Homo sapiens: one gene and its partners. The protein of the gene in region 1 interacts with the protein of each later gene in a biochemical or structural test. Each region holds a gene or a part of one and is shown in the gene's direction. Other genes may lie near its edges.

What was found. The genes of interacting proteins can lie anywhere in the genome.
Region 2: the proteins of PXN (region 1) and NLRP3 form a complex in vitro, tested with the Homo sapiens proteins (one study listed by BioGRID).
Region 3: of the proteins of PXN (region 1) and PTPRK, one has a biochemical effect on the other in vitro, tested with the Homo sapiens proteins (one large-scale study listed by IntAct).
Region 4: of the proteins of PXN (region 1) and PTPN11, one has a biochemical effect on the other in vitro, tested with the Homo sapiens proteins (one study listed by IntAct).

The regions. Positions count from the first base shown.
Region 1 is NC_000012.12:120,217,082-120,220,883, reverse strand, and holds part of PXN (paxillin), read left to right. Parts: exon of another isoform or gene 1-792; coding exon 793-1,677; intron 1,678-3,767; coding exon 3,768-3,802. UniProt on the Homo sapiens protein: Cytoskeletal protein involved in actin-membrane attachment at sites of cell adhesion to the extracellular matrix (focal adhesion). Recruits other proteins such as TRIM15 to focal adhesion.
Region 2 is NC_000001.11:247,443,673-247,447,172, forward strand, and holds part of NLRP3 (NACHT, LRR and PYD domains-containing protein 3), read left to right. Parts: intron 1-299; coding exon 300-470; intron 471-978; coding exon 979-1,149; intron 1,150-3,500. UniProt on the Homo sapiens protein: Sensor component of the NLRP3 inflammasome, which mediates inflammasome activation in response to defects in membrane integrity, leading to secretion of inflammatory cytokines IL1B and IL18 and pyroptosis.
Region 3 is NC_000006.12:127,978,600-127,982,099, reverse strand, and holds part of PTPRK (receptor-type tyrosine-protein phosphatase kappa isoform b precursor), read left to right. Parts: intron 1-810; coding exon 811-984; intron 985-3,500. UniProt on the Homo sapiens protein: Regulation of processes involving cell contact and adhesion such as growth control, tumor invasion, and metastasis. Negative regulator of EGFR signaling pathway. Forms complexes with beta-catenin and gamma-catenin/plakoglobin.
Region 4 is NC_000012.12:112,488,447-112,491,946, forward strand, and holds part of PTPN11 (tyrosine-protein phosphatase non-receptor type 11), read left to right. Parts: coding exon 1-64; intron 65-577; coding exon 578-729; intron 730-737; exon of another isoform or gene 738-1,542; intron 1,543-2,571; exon of another isoform or gene 2,572-2,978; intron 2,979-3,500. UniProt on the Homo sapiens protein: Acts downstream of various receptor and cytoplasmic protein tyrosine kinases to participate in the signal transduction from the cell surface to the nucleus. Positively regulates MAPK signal transduction pathway. Dephosphorylates GAB1, ARHGAP35 and EGFR.

The DNA.
Region 1 (3,802 bases):
ACCTTTGGGGCATGACCTAGGGAATATGAGAGGGGAGTGAACGGTCCCTGCACCCTTGGCCCTGATGGTGTCTCCTAGCCTCCCTTCAGCTGAGGTTTCATGGTGGGAGACAGGAGTGTGGCTGGGGTGGAGGGTTGAGCCTGGCCCTGTGACCCTTGCGTGCTATAGTTCCAGCTCCAGGCCAGTGGTTCTGAGCAGCCATGGTCAGAAGCAAGTAAGTTGGATTCAGGGCCTGGCCTGAGGGAGCTGTGCCCCGGTGCTTTTAAGGCTGCCGTTTTCTCAGACAGCCTGTGTCCTGATGCCAGGAGAAGCAGCAGTGGTTTTAGTCAGATCCCTGGAGCAAGGATGTGGAAGACGTAGAGGACTTGGGGTGTAGGAAAGCTGGGATTGTCCGGAGGGACATGGCCGAGTTGGGCCAGTGTCCGAGGCGGGTTCAGCAGCCCCTGGGGCTGGCTCTCCCTCCATTTGTGCCTGGGGCTGTCTTCCGTAGCCACCTGGCTCCCCATTTGTCCACCTTACCGTGGTCTTTTCTTTCTCATACCCTCCCTGGGTGGCTCCACAGGCACGGCTTGGTGGCTGCTTTCTCTTGCTTGGGTTTGGTGAGGGCTAAGCACGCAAAGCCCAGGGAAGCTTTTTTGGGGTCTGGGTCTCCTTCAAGGGTCAGTCCTGTGCGTCAGCTTTGCAGCCACCTTGGTCAGCCCTAAGGCCGAGCCCACCGCCTGCAAGGTGCAGCCGTCCTCACTCCCCTCATCTCTCTCTCTCCTCTCCCCTCTGCATTTCTCTCTTCTCCAGACCAGCTCCTCCACTGTGGCTCTGAGTGCCCCGGGGCTGTCCAGCTCTGCTCCGTCCTCATACTGCTCCCTTCCTCCTTCTCCTCCTCCCATGCCATCTGTATTTCTGCCACCCACCACTATACCCTCCCCTCGAGGCCAGGGCCACACTCCGGAGTTCCCTTGTACTGAGCAGAGTGGACGAGGCCTTCTACCTCCTGTAGCCCCCAGCTGGCTTGATTTGGCTGGTCTTGGGGTGATGCCTGACACCTTCAACTCAAGGTCTCCCTCTGTGGAGGGTTCTCTGTGGGCAGTGGGCACAGAGAGTCAGGGTCGAGATTGGAGGCACCTGCCGACCATCACAAGTGAGCTCTCTGGGGCTCCCCGCTGCCACACTGTACCCTGTGCTGGGAGCACAGCTCTCCAAGAGCCTGGGGAGCCCCAGGGGCCACCAGCCAGCCCTTCGTGCCCAGAGGAGGCCTTGGCTGCCACATGGGAGCAGCCATGGGCTTCGGAGGTATTCGGGCCTGAGAGAATGCCCCCCTCTGGAGCTGCTCGAAGCTTCCAAGAAGTAACAGAGCCAGCTGTAGTGGCAGTGGACCGGCAGGCCATCTTCCCAGATACCTGGACTCTCACGGAGGAACATGGCCTACAGCAGGAGAGGCCAAGGCCAGAGCCAGGGAGGCTGGGAAGCAGCTCCCCTGCCTCAGTTACCACGGAGCAGCTAGGTGCAAAGATGACCGAGAGGGGAAGTGTGGCCAGGCCAACCCAGGGACCTGAAACCCCAAGGAGCCCAGAGGGCACCACGGAAGCTGCCACCCAGGACGGGAAGGAACAGCCAGAGCTTCCATGTGCCATGGCCATGGGCACACCCAGCACCACGGAGAGGATTTCCACCTCTGGCCAGGCAGGCACCAGCTCGCATGGCTGCTGGGCATGGCCATTGGCGGGTCTGAGTGTGGGCCGCTCCTCGCTAACTGCATGCAGCCTCCCACTCTGCGCATGTCTGCTTGGGCAGAAAATGCTGAGACACTGTGGCCGGACCTGACAGTCAGCACTTGGCAGTGGGCTCTGTGGACCCAGCATTTCTCATAGCGTCAACCCACCTCTTGCCTTGTTGAGGCTTTTTCCTTTCAGATGAGCTGTCCTTGACATTCTGATGTGGTGAAATGGTTAGCAGCATGGACTTTGGAACCAGATAGACCTAGATACAAACCACATGTCTAACACTTGCTACCTCTGTGACCTTGGGCAACCCCCTCCCTCAGCCTCAGTTTTCTCATCTGTAAAGTGGGGAGAATTTCCATCAAGATTGTCCGGAGACCTAAATGAGATAATTCCTGGAAAGTGTTTAGAACACAGCATGTGGTCCCTCAATAGGCCGTGGCTGACAGTACTTTTATTACTTGCTTTTTGCTTAAATTAAAACTTTATGCCGGGCCAGGTGTGGTGGCTCACGCCTGTAATCCCAGCACTTTGGGAGGCCGAGGCGGGCGGATCACCTGAGGTTGGGAGTTCGAGGCCAGCCTGACCAACATGGAGAAACCCCATCTCTACTAAAGATACAAAAAGATTAGCTGGGCATGGTGGCGCATGCCTGTAATCCCAGCTACTCAGGAGGCTGAGGCAGGAGAATCACTTGAACCCAGGACGCAGAGGTTGCGGTGAGCCAAGATCATACCATTGCACTCCAGCCTGGGCAACAAGAGTGAAACTTGGTCTCAAAAAACAAAAACAAAACAACAACAACAACAAAAAACTTTATGCCTCACCCTGGCACAGTAGCTTATACCTGTAATCCTAGCACTTTGGGAGGCTGAGGCAAGAGGATCGCTTGAGCCCAGGAGTTTGAGACCAGCCTAGGCAACACAGTGAAACCCTGTCTCTACAAAAAATTAAAGATTAGCTGGGCGTGGTTGCACATGCCTATAGTCCCAGCTGCTGGGGAGGCTAAAGCAGGAGGATGGCTTTAGCCCAGGAGTTTGAGGCTGCAGTGAGTTGTGATCGCACCACTGCATTCAGCCTGAGCAACAGATCAAGACACTGTCTCAAAAAAAAAAAAAAAAAAAAATCCCCCAAGCTTTATGCCTCTTTGGAAAACAAAACGAAACAACCAAAAACCCCCAAAACACTACCAACAAGTATAATAGCATAATATAATATTAGCATAATAATATAAATAAGAAAAAAAAAACTAGTTAAAAAAGTTCCTGGCTAGCTGAGCACGGTGGCTCACACCTGTATTCCCAGCACTTTGGGAGGCCGAGGCAGGCAGATCACGAGGTCAGGAGTTTGAGACCAGCCGAACCAACATGATGAAACCCCATCTCTACTAAAAAAAAAAACAAAAAACAACAACAACAAAAATTAGCCAGGCGTGGTGGTGCATGCCTTTAATCCCAGCTACTCAGGAGGCTGAGGCAGGAGAATCTCTTGAACCCAGGAGGCGGAGGTTGCAGTGAGACCAGATCGCGCCACTGCATTCCAGCCTGGGCGACAGAGCGAGACTCTGTCCCCCCCCAAAAAAAAGTTCCTGGAAGGAAACACTTTTTCTATTATAAATTAAAAAAAAGAAAAAAGAAAAAGCCGTATGCCTTGTCAAGGGCATGCACTTACATCCTCTGGAATAATTCTTGTGCAAACCCTGTGCGGTAAGCCAAGAAAATCTTGTGGTTCCATTTTAAGGAAGGGGAAGCTGAGGCCCATGGCAATTAAGTGTCTTGCCCAAGGTCAGTGGCCAACTTAGAGGTGAATGCTGGGTCAGAGGTCTCGCTCGCAGCCTGTGCTTCTGGAGCCAGTCCGATCTGCCCCCTCCCCTTGCCTCTACCCACCTCCACCGGTCCAATCTGCCCCCTCCCCGTGCCTCCACCCACCTCCGCTTGGTTCTTTGGTGGTTTTCTTTTGTGCTCCCTCTCCTGAGGCATCTGAGTGTGGCCTGAGCAGCGTTGTGCAAGCTGGGAGTGGGACGGTGACAGCCTCCCCTCCCCCTCCCCCTAGATCCGATCTGTGATCAGGAGGAGCTGGGAGTCTGG
Region 2 (3,500 bases), on another chromosome or scaffold:
CCTGGCCGGAGGAAAGCTGTGTGAGGAGGAGGAGGAGTATGGGGTAACTGGCTCAGTTTGCCTTGGCTCTTTCTGTCGGACTCATACAGCAAAGCATCTGCTGAGACATCATTTGTGTCTCCTGTGACAGCCAGAGACAGCAGGTCTTGCTCTCCCCAGATCATATCTGAGATGCTGGCTCCTGCTCTCTGAGCTGAAGGCTGCAGCTGCTGAGAGAGGACGAGGCACTGAGTCAAAGCAGCTGCACAATGTTGGGGAACAGCTGGGTACTGAGGACTCTTCTCCCTGTCCTTCTACAGGTTGGTGAATTCTGGCCTTACGTCAGTCTGTTGTTCAGCTTTGTCCTCGGTACTCAGCACTAATCAGAATCTCACGCACCTTTACCTGCGAGGCAACACTCTCGGAGACAAGGGGATCAAACTACTCTGTGAGGGACTCTTGCACCCCGACTGCAAGCTTCAGGTGTTGGAGTAAGTCCTTTGGTTTATTACAGCAATGAGAACACATGGTGGCCAAGGGTGGAGGGACGTTTAGGCAGAGTGGCCACAAGATAATCTGTATCTTAGAAGTGAGGTGTCTTCTTAGTGTTTGCCTTGTTACAGGATCATGGGACTGGGAGGAGTCCTTCCAGATGATATAGATGTAGGAACTTGAGTCCTTACCATCACAGTTTTCTGTACCACAAAACAAGGAGGGCAGTATGACACTTACATTTTATGGAAATGTAGGGAAAGGCACAGAATTTGGTAAATCAATGAACAAACCACTGTTACTAATTTGATCTGTGCAATGCAGTGGATTTGAAAAAGAGAGAGAAGAATAATTACCAGCATACAAGGCTGCTTGAAGCTAGTTAGTCCTGTGCTCCTGTGCTTTTTTTTTTTCCACCTGAAACAAGACAGGCTAAGATGCTAAAATCTTGGGGAGCTAGGGGGATGGTTAAGGGGACATTTTCTTTAAATCACCCCCTTTTTGCAGATTAGACAACTGCAACCTCACGTCACACTGCTGCTGGGATCTTTCCACACTTCTGACCTCCAGCCAGAGCCTGCGAAAGCTGAGCCTGGGCAACAATGACCTGGGCGACCTGGGGGTCATGATGTTCTGTGAAGTGCTGAAACAGCAGAGCTGCCTCCTGCAGAACCTGGGGTGAGTGTGCTCTGCAGAGATGCCCGTGGTGGGACTCTGAGTTCTCAGGAAACGTTGACTGTTATCAAAATCCAGGATGGCTCTCGCTTCATTTGCAGCCACTCAAGATTAGGTTGGGCCTGGGTCAGTTGTGGTGGATATTTTAAAATAGAGAATATGGGGTTAAACTACACATTCCACTTCACTGAGATGGTTAGAATCACCAAGGCTAAGCTGGATTTCACCCACATTCCCCAAAGAAACACAAGCCCTCATGCGATCATGGCCAAGGAGGATTCTGTTCTACACAAGGAACCGAACTTCGTAGAACTCGTCTATGGGTCATCCAAATTGGAAGGGTCTTTACATAGTGGGGATCTTGTTGTTTTGTTTCTGAGGATTTATTTTTTTTTTCCTTGAGACAGAGTCTTGCTCTGTCGCCCAGGCTGGAGTGCAGTGGCATGATCTCGGCTCACTGCAAGCTCCGCCTCCCGGGTTCACGCCATTCTCCTGCCTCGGCCTCCCAAGTAGCTGGGACCACAGGCGCCTGCCACCACACCCGGCTAATTTTTTGTATTTTTAGTAGAGTTGGGGTTTCACTGTGTTAGCCAGGATGGTCTCCATCTCCTGACCTCGTGATCTGCCTGCCTCGGCCTCCCCAAGTGCTGGGATTACAGGTGTGAGCCTCCGTGCCTGGCGGTTTCTGAGGATTTCTAAATGGGAAAAGAGTGCTCCAGGAATAGCAAGATGGGAAATTACACGAAATTCGACAGTGTGTCAGGATATTGCCAGCCCACCTCTGTGATACTACTGAGGTAGTCGTCTCCTCTCTAGCAAGAGCTTCCTGGCGAGTCCCACGGTTCTGTCAGCCGTGATGATTGCACTTTTCCCTGAAGACGTTTTCACTGCTTGGCTTTAAGGCCAACATGCTCTCCTGGGTTTTCTCCTATTTCATCAGATCCTTCTACTCAGTCTCCTTTCTGGCCTCTTCTTCATCATCCTGACCCTTATGTGTTGAATCCTCAGAGCTTAGTCGCTGGGCTAATTTTTCTTCCCTACACTTTCTCCCTCATTTAAATTATCTGGTCTTCTGGCTTCATGATATGTGTGCTGTGGCCTCCAGATTATATGTCCATAAATTCTGTGTCTCCGTGCTTGGCTGATCTTTCTTCTTGAAGGTTTAATAAACCTCTCAAACGTCACATCTAGATCCACACCCTTGCTACTCTCTTCTACCCGAAACCTGATTCTTCCCCATTTCAGTCGATGGTCACTTCCTCCAAGTTGCTCGGGCCAAAACATTTCTGGTTCTGTCGTCACTGTCTCTTTTTCCTTATAATCATGTCCAATGTGTCAGCACATCCTGTGAGCTCTGCCTTCCCAGCTTGGCCACTCCCTGACCACTTCAGGCCAGCTTCACGGCTTCTTCCTTGGCTCAAGCCACCATCACCTGGTGTCTGGATTGTCATGGTGGCATTCTGACAGGTCACCCTGCATCTGTTATTCTGATTTTAGCAGACAAGGGATTCAGCTAAAACGTAACTCGCATCATATCACTCTTGTCAACATCGTCTTCTTATCACTTTCATAATCAGAGCAACAAACTCATGGTGGCTTCCATGCCCCACATAATCCAGCCTCTCCTGCTTCCGAAGATTCCGCTTCTCCCAACCCTTGCTTATTCTGCCCCAGTACAGTGATCTCCTTGCTGTTTTGCAAGAACACTGTCATCTCTGGATTTTTGCACTTGCTTTTCTTCTGGCCTAGAACTCTCTCCCCTTCAGTATCCACCTGCATTATTCCCTGTACCTTCCTAAATTCTCTGCTTAAAGGTCTTCTCTGCGAGGCTGTCTTTGACTATTCTACTGAAAATAGAAGCACTTTTTCTTCTCTTCTCATTCTCCTCTGCAGTGTAGCACATCTTATGTGCTATGTCATTTTCTTGTTTATTTATTATCTATCTCTGCTCCCAAAATATAAATTCCATTAGTCCAGGGACTTCTGTCCATATTAATGATCTCAAGGCTGAGAACTTGTTGGAATGCAGGTTTGAATAAATACAAGTTTGAATCAGCCTTGCATCCTTGTGCCAACATAATGGAGCACATTTGCTGCAGGACAAGCCAATATTCCCAGAGCTAAGAGAGATGGGGGAACAAACAAAGGATTGGTCAGGTCAAAGCTGGGGACACTGCTACATGTAGCATCACTGACCTAGCCCTGAGGGACATTCTGGACCCAGGCTGAGGGACAGGCTCAAAATAGATTGAAGAATCCATGAATGCAATCAACCCGTTTTCTCAGGCTGCGATAACAAGCTGCTTTAGACTGTGTGACTCAAACACAGATTTATTATCTCACAATACTGGAGG
Region 3 (3,500 bases), on another chromosome or scaffold:
TTGGGATGCCAAGGCAGGCAGATCTTGAGGTCAGCAGTTCAAGACCAGCCTGGCCAACATGGCAAAACCTCATCTCTACAAAAAATATAAAAAATAGCCGGGTGTGGTGGTGCATGCCTGTAGTCCCAGCTACTCAGGAGGTTGAGATGGGAGGATTGCTTGACCCTGGAAGTTTGCTTAACCCTGGAAGGCTGTGGTGAGCCAAGATATTGCCACTGCACTCCAACCTGGGCAACAGAGTAAGACCCTGTCTCAAAAATAATAATAGTAATAATAATAATAAATGAAGTTTGTAGTACATGTTATTTCAAAATAGCCCTAAATGTTTTCACTGCCCTTAAAACACCCCTGAAGGTGGGTGAAAATAAAATCAAGGGCAGAGACCAAATTCTTTGATTGTTGATCCAGTGCTCTTTCCAACATGCCATAGCTTATCTTCAAATATGGCAAGCCCAGATGTTACTACAAATGATACCGTTTCCCAGTGTGATGAAGGGTCATTATCATAATGGACTGCCCGATTGCATTTTCTTTGGTTAAGGCAATGCATTTTGCAGGTAGCAGTGTTGTTTAGCGTACCTTTTCCTTTTAAGAAGAGGAGCCCTGAACAATGTGTGTCTTGTTTCTTTGTCACTTCTCAGGCTTCATTAGCTTTAACTACAAGGTCTATCAGCCTGTCATAGTAGCAAATGCCATTGCCTCGCACAAATCCTTCACTTTCTACTTGGCCTTCTAAATTCCTGATGGATCTGTGTTATACTGTTAAATGGGTCACACTGTCTTTTAACCTGGGTTCTCTTTTCTTTTTAGACTCTGAATTCAGTCACCCCTCGACTACAAGCTGAAGACTGCAGTATAGCGTGCCTGCCAAGGAACCATGACAAGAACCGTTTCATGGACATGCTGCCACCTGACAGATGTCTGCCTTTTTTAATTACAATTGATGGGGAGAGCAGTAACTACATCAATGCTGCTCTTATGGACGTAAGAGACTGCCCTCTTTGTTAGTGTAGAGTGTTGTGGAAAGCTACATAATGCAACTGAACACTGGCTAGTTTTCTTTTCGAGGAAATTAAAATAACCTAAAAAGGAAAAGTGGAAACTTTTATTGAAACACATTTTTTTGGAAAATGATTTTAGGTTTTCCCTATAGAGATTCTTAAGAACTGTCATTTTTATAGCTTTATTGTAGATTTGGAGCTTGATTGTCAATTATTATATTCATGTAGTAAATATTGCAAGTTATAAATTTCATCTTAATTATTTTCAGAAAAGAAAATCATGCCTTATCTATTTTGAATATAATTAGAAATGAATTTTTTAAATCACAGAATGCCAAATCCTACAAAAATCATGTTAATTTGGGAAATTTTTATTTCTGACATTTAATGTTTCAATAATTTACAATTAATTTGTTGGCCATTAATCAATAAGGACTATTATAAGTAACTAGAGAGGGGATGGATGGTATTATGTTAACACATCCATCATAATGAAAGAACAATCTTGCCCCATTCTAAAATCTTAAATTGCAGGGTGTTATATAGCCCATAGACAGAACAATATGGAAAGAAAGTTTTCTGTTTTAGTTTTTGGTTTTTTTTTTTTTAGACAGAGTCTCACTCTGTCGCCCAGGCTGGAGTGCAGTGGCATGATCTCAGCTCACTGCAACCTCCGCCTCCCAGGTTCAAGCAATTCTCCTGCCTCAGACTCTTGAGTAACTTGGAATACAGGAGCGTGCTCTACCACACCCCGCTTATTTTGTTTGTTTGTTGTTGTTTTTGTTTTTGAGACAGAGTTTCGCTCTTGTTGCCCAGGCTGGAGTGCAATGGCACAATCTCGGCTCACTGCAACCTCTGCTTCCCAGGTTCAAGCGATTCTCCTGCCTTTGCCTCCCAAGTAGCTGGGACTACAGGCATGCACCACCATGCACGGCTAATTTTTTGTATTTAGTAGAGATGGGGTTTCACCATGTTGGTCAGATTGGTATTGAACTCCTGACCTCAGGTGATCCACCTGCCTCGGCCCCCCAAAGTACTGGGATTACAGGCGTAAGCCACCGTGCCGGGCCTTTTTTGTATTTTTAGTAGAGATGAGATTTCACCACATTGGCCAGGCTGGTCTCAAACTCCTGACCTCATGATCCGCCCACCTTGGCCTCCCAAGGAAAGAAAGTTTTAAATTATGACTTTGGCCACTTTACTTTGATTATGTTGGAAAGAAGCAAGAAAGCTATCATGGTTTATAATCTTTTTAAACAGTTTACTGCCTTCATTTCTAGCTTTTGCCCTTTCTCCTATGAAACCATATCAAGGAGAAATTAGAAGCCACGGTTCATTTCTTTCTGACTATAACAGGCTTTCTAAGTTATTGTTCCTGTTAAGCCCACATTCTGTTTCTACGAGTAGTCTTCACCAGTTACTTTACTCTTTTTGGTGCTGCAAAGCGGAATAGTCTAAAGGCAGGCTCTCGTCCTTGCTGTGGTCACTCTTGCCTGTGAAAAGCTCTCATCCTTGCTGTGATCGGAGTCTTGCCTGGCCATTAATCACATCCACTGAAATCACATTAAATCCTAATTATACCTTTTCTTTTTATATTAGGTGTCTGGAAAGGCAAATATACTAAATAGAGAGATGGCATACAATACTTTTTCATTTCTGCATCTAAATATGGAATAAAAAAAGGATGTGTGAACAAGAAAAGGAGAAAATAATAATATTTAGAAAAGCATTGATGCCTTTGAATTTTTTGCCATTGGCATCTTTGTCAAATTTTTCTCAATGTCCAGATTGTCTCCTTTTCTTTTCTTTTTTCTTTTTCTTTTTGAGACAAGCTCTCACTCTGTAGCACAGGCTGGAGTGTCGTGCATGATCACAGATGACTGCAGCCTCAATCTCCTGGGCTCAAGTGGTCCTCCCACCTCAGCCTACCAAGTAGCTAGAACTAAGGTGTATGCCATCATGCCCAGCTAATTTTTTTTTTATTATTTTTTGTAAAGATGGGGTCTTGCTTTCTTGTCCAAGCTTGTCTTTTTTTCTGTATGAAAGTTGAAGCTTGTAATCCACCTGCTCTTACTGTCTGCTTAATCCCCTGTGATTCAAAAAAAAGACATTTCATAGTTAAAGCTGTTCTGGGGATTTAGTAGTGCAAATGAACCGTTGGAGAAGTAAAGCTGGTTTGATTTACAAGAACAGGGTTTATTGTTCACTTCTTTCTCCCTACCCTTTATCCCCATCATTAGTACCCTTTTGCCAGGTCTATGAGGGATTAGGAGCTAGGGCCAAGAATTCTGTAATTTCAAAGCCTTACATATGTTCCTGCATTTAGAGGGAAAAAGAATAGGAAGTCTTCAGTCTTCTCCTCTCTTATCAGCTCCTCCTCATGCATATCCCCTCCCCTGTGGCTCAAAAAATGAGTAGATAGCCGTCAGTCTGCTTTGACTTACCTTTGCATGGAGCAGACATTTGATTGGAAGAAGAGCTTCCTTTCTTCTAACTTTT
Region 4 (3,500 bases), 7.7 Mb from region 1:
GGAATTGGCCGGACAGGGACGTTCATTGTGATTGATATTCTTATTGACATCATCAGAGAGAAAGGTGGGTCATCTGGTGGGCAAGAAGCGACAGTTTCTGTTTTTAGTTTATGGAAGGAAAGTGCTCACGAAAACAGTCTGGGGAAGAGAGGTTGAATGGGAAAATTCTTTCACAAAAATCTGGGCTGAAGACTTCAGTGTGTCTGCCTGAGAACAGAAGTGACACTATTTGAGCTTTTGGCATAAAATGAAGTCTAGGAGCTGCAGAACCCACTGCCATGGCCTTTTGTTGCATACACAGTGGTGGTCTCTATCCAGCCACCTGACCTTGTTTACAGTATGGGGTGATTTGTTGGCAAGTGAGGGAATCCTGACTTCTGCCACTTCGTTATTTATGTAGTCTTCTGGGATCATTGGTATTGGTCAGAAGTTCAACACTGTAGCCATTGCAACATGCTCAGTTAAAACAGCAAAGACTAAATTAGCATTGTCTCTGAGTCCACTAAAAGTTGTGCATTAAACAACTTCATCCTGGCTCTGCAGTTTCTCTTTATTCTTCATGATGTTTCCTTCGTAGGTGTTGACTGCGATATTGACGTTCCCAAAACCATCCAGATGGTGCGGTCTCAGAGGTCAGGGATGGTCCAGACAGAAGCACAGTACCGATTTATCTATATGGCGGTCCAGCATTATATTGAAACACTACAGCGCAGGATTGAAGAAGAGCAGGTACCAGCCTGAGGGCTGGCATGCGGATTCTCATTCTCTTGCTAGGCCTCTTGGATACGCTCTCCTTTTGAGCAGGAGGACAGGCTCTGATAGACAACTGTTTGATTTCGGAATGGGAAACAAACTCCCAACTAAAAGGGCCTCTGGAAACTGTCAATTATTCTCCACTTCTCAGCTCTGATTTTTCACTGCAGAGGAGCTTAGGGAAGGGCACCATCCTATCAGCCTGGCCTGCCAGATTGAAGAACTGCCATGCAGAAAGGTTCTGATGTTCTCAGGCTCATGTGGCAAGCGTAAAACTCAAAGCCTTGAAGTTTCTAGCCTGTTCCAGCCTTGATCCAGGCCATGTTTATCCTGATTCCATCCTTTAAAACGAATGCCTCACTCTTAATAGCGCACGGCAGTTTGAACCACTAATTTGGTCGAGTTGGAAACAGTGAAATTTCAATTTTAATAAGCTGTGCATAATGAAGAGGAATGTGGAATTGGAGCCTTTCCATCTGAAGCTATTCATAACAGGCACAAAGCTGAGTTAATTAGGAATATGCTGAGATGAAGGAAATGAGGAGAGCTGCTCTTTTGGGGGCTGTGCTTCTCTCCCCAACCCCTCAACCCCATTGCCATGCTGCAGATGGGGTGGTGTCTAAACATCAGTGGCGAGTGCCTGCATTACTCTGCTCGTTGCCTTCCAGAGAACTCAGCTTCTCCAAATGCTGAGCTCTTTTCAGAATGGGACCTGCCACCAGTATTTGAAAGATTTCTAGCCTAGCAGAACAGCAGCCACGTTATCAAAGTTTGGTTGGCCAAAGGAAGGTACTTGCTAATTAGTTTAGTAGGTTTTCAGTCCGCACAGACATACGGGATTGTTTTATTGTACATAGACATCTTCAGAAACAGTGTATGTATAGAAATGTAAGGTCAAAATTTGAACCTCAGTGCTTTAAATCTGAATTTGTATTAACTGATATGAAATATTTAGACGGTTACTTTATTTTATATCTGTCTTCCATTATACTTAATTTGGCTCAAGAATAGTTAGGCAAAAAGTTGCCCAAAGAGAAGGATCTCCTAGTAAATACAAAGAGAATGTAACATAGTTGCTACAAGTTGGAGCATGTTCAGGGATGTCTTTTTTTTTTTTTTTTTTTGAGAGAGAGGTCTCTCTCTGTTGCCCAGGCTGGAGTGCAGTGGTGTAATCATGGCTCACTGCAGCCTCAATCTCCCAGGCTTAAGCGATCCTCCCACCTCAGCCTCCCAAGTAGCTGGGACTATAGGCATGCGCCACCACACCTAGCTAATTTTCGCATTTTTTGTAGTGTCACAGTTTCGCCATGTTGCCCAGGCTAGTCTCGAATTCCTAGGCTCAAGCAGTGCTTCTGCCTCAGCCTCTCTGAGTAGTTAGGACTACAAATTTGTGGCTCCATGCCCGGCTAATTTTTTTATCTTTATTTTGTAGAGACAAGGTCTCACTGTGTTGCCCAGGCTAGTCTTGAACTCCTGGGCTCAAACAACCCTCCCACTTTGGGTTTCCAAAGTGCTGGGATTACAAGTGTGAGCCACTGAGCCCAGTGACCTCTGGGTTTTAAAAATGTGTAGGCTTCAATTATTTATTTTAAAAAATGAAATCCTGCAATATATAGTTTTCTGCGTTGTGTGGTTTGAATCAATCTGGGAACTGGCTTGCTGGCTGATTGTGGTAAAGTAAGAAGTACTTAATTTAGTAGAAAGTTTAAATGGCAGACATAACATTAAACCCAGCTGATTTATAAATGAAGCAAAAGAACAAAACTCATTCAGGATAATTGGTTATTCTAAAATACAGTCATTTCTAAAATTATGAAGTGTTCAGGACCTTTGGGAGTGAAAGAATTTGCTAAAGAAGGATCAGTGAAAAAAAGGAATGATGGGTGAAGAGCTGTGGAGAAGGAAGAGAAGAAACAGCACAAGGAAGGAAGAATATAAAATCAGATGTGGGAATCCAGGGGAAAGTGCAAACGAAGCAAGATTGAGAAAATTCTCAAGTTTTTATAAACAGTTCTCACACTCTGCCAGTTCCTTGGAGGTAGACTTTTTTGTTAACTTCCAACTACAGTAGTGAAAAAAAAAAAAAAACCCTCAAATTTGCAAAAGCAGTCTGTGGAATTTTCTTTACCCAGCTTTCCTGACTGTTAACTTTTTAGCACACTTAACTTTATCATTCGTTTATTCTCTCTGTTTAAAATTAAAAATGTAAATTTTAAAAAGTAAAATGTTTGTTGGTTACAAACATTTATACCCCTTTGTCTCTAAATATCATTTCATTTTAAAAAATGAATAATCTAAGCCTACACATTCTAAAATGTGTATATTTTCTAAAAATAAGGGCATTCTCTTACATAACCAATGTCACAATTATTTGATACAGTGATCAAAATCAGGAAACTAACATTGATATAACACTATTATCTAACCTACAGACCATCTTCAAATTTTGTCCTGCTAGTATCTTTTATGGGTCCAGGGTCACACAGTGCATTTGGCTATAATGTATCTTTTTTCTCTTTTTTTGAGACAGGGTCTCACTTTGTTGCCCAGGTTGGAGTGCAGTGGTGCAATTATGGCTCACGGCAGCCTTGACCTCCTTGGGCTCAGGTGATCCTCCCACCTCAGCCTCTCGAGTAGCTGGAGACCACAGGTGTGCACCACCATGCCTGGCTAAGTTTTGTATTTTTTGTAGAGATGGAGCTTCGCCGTGTTGCCCCGGCTGGCCTTGAACTCCTGGGCTCAAGTGA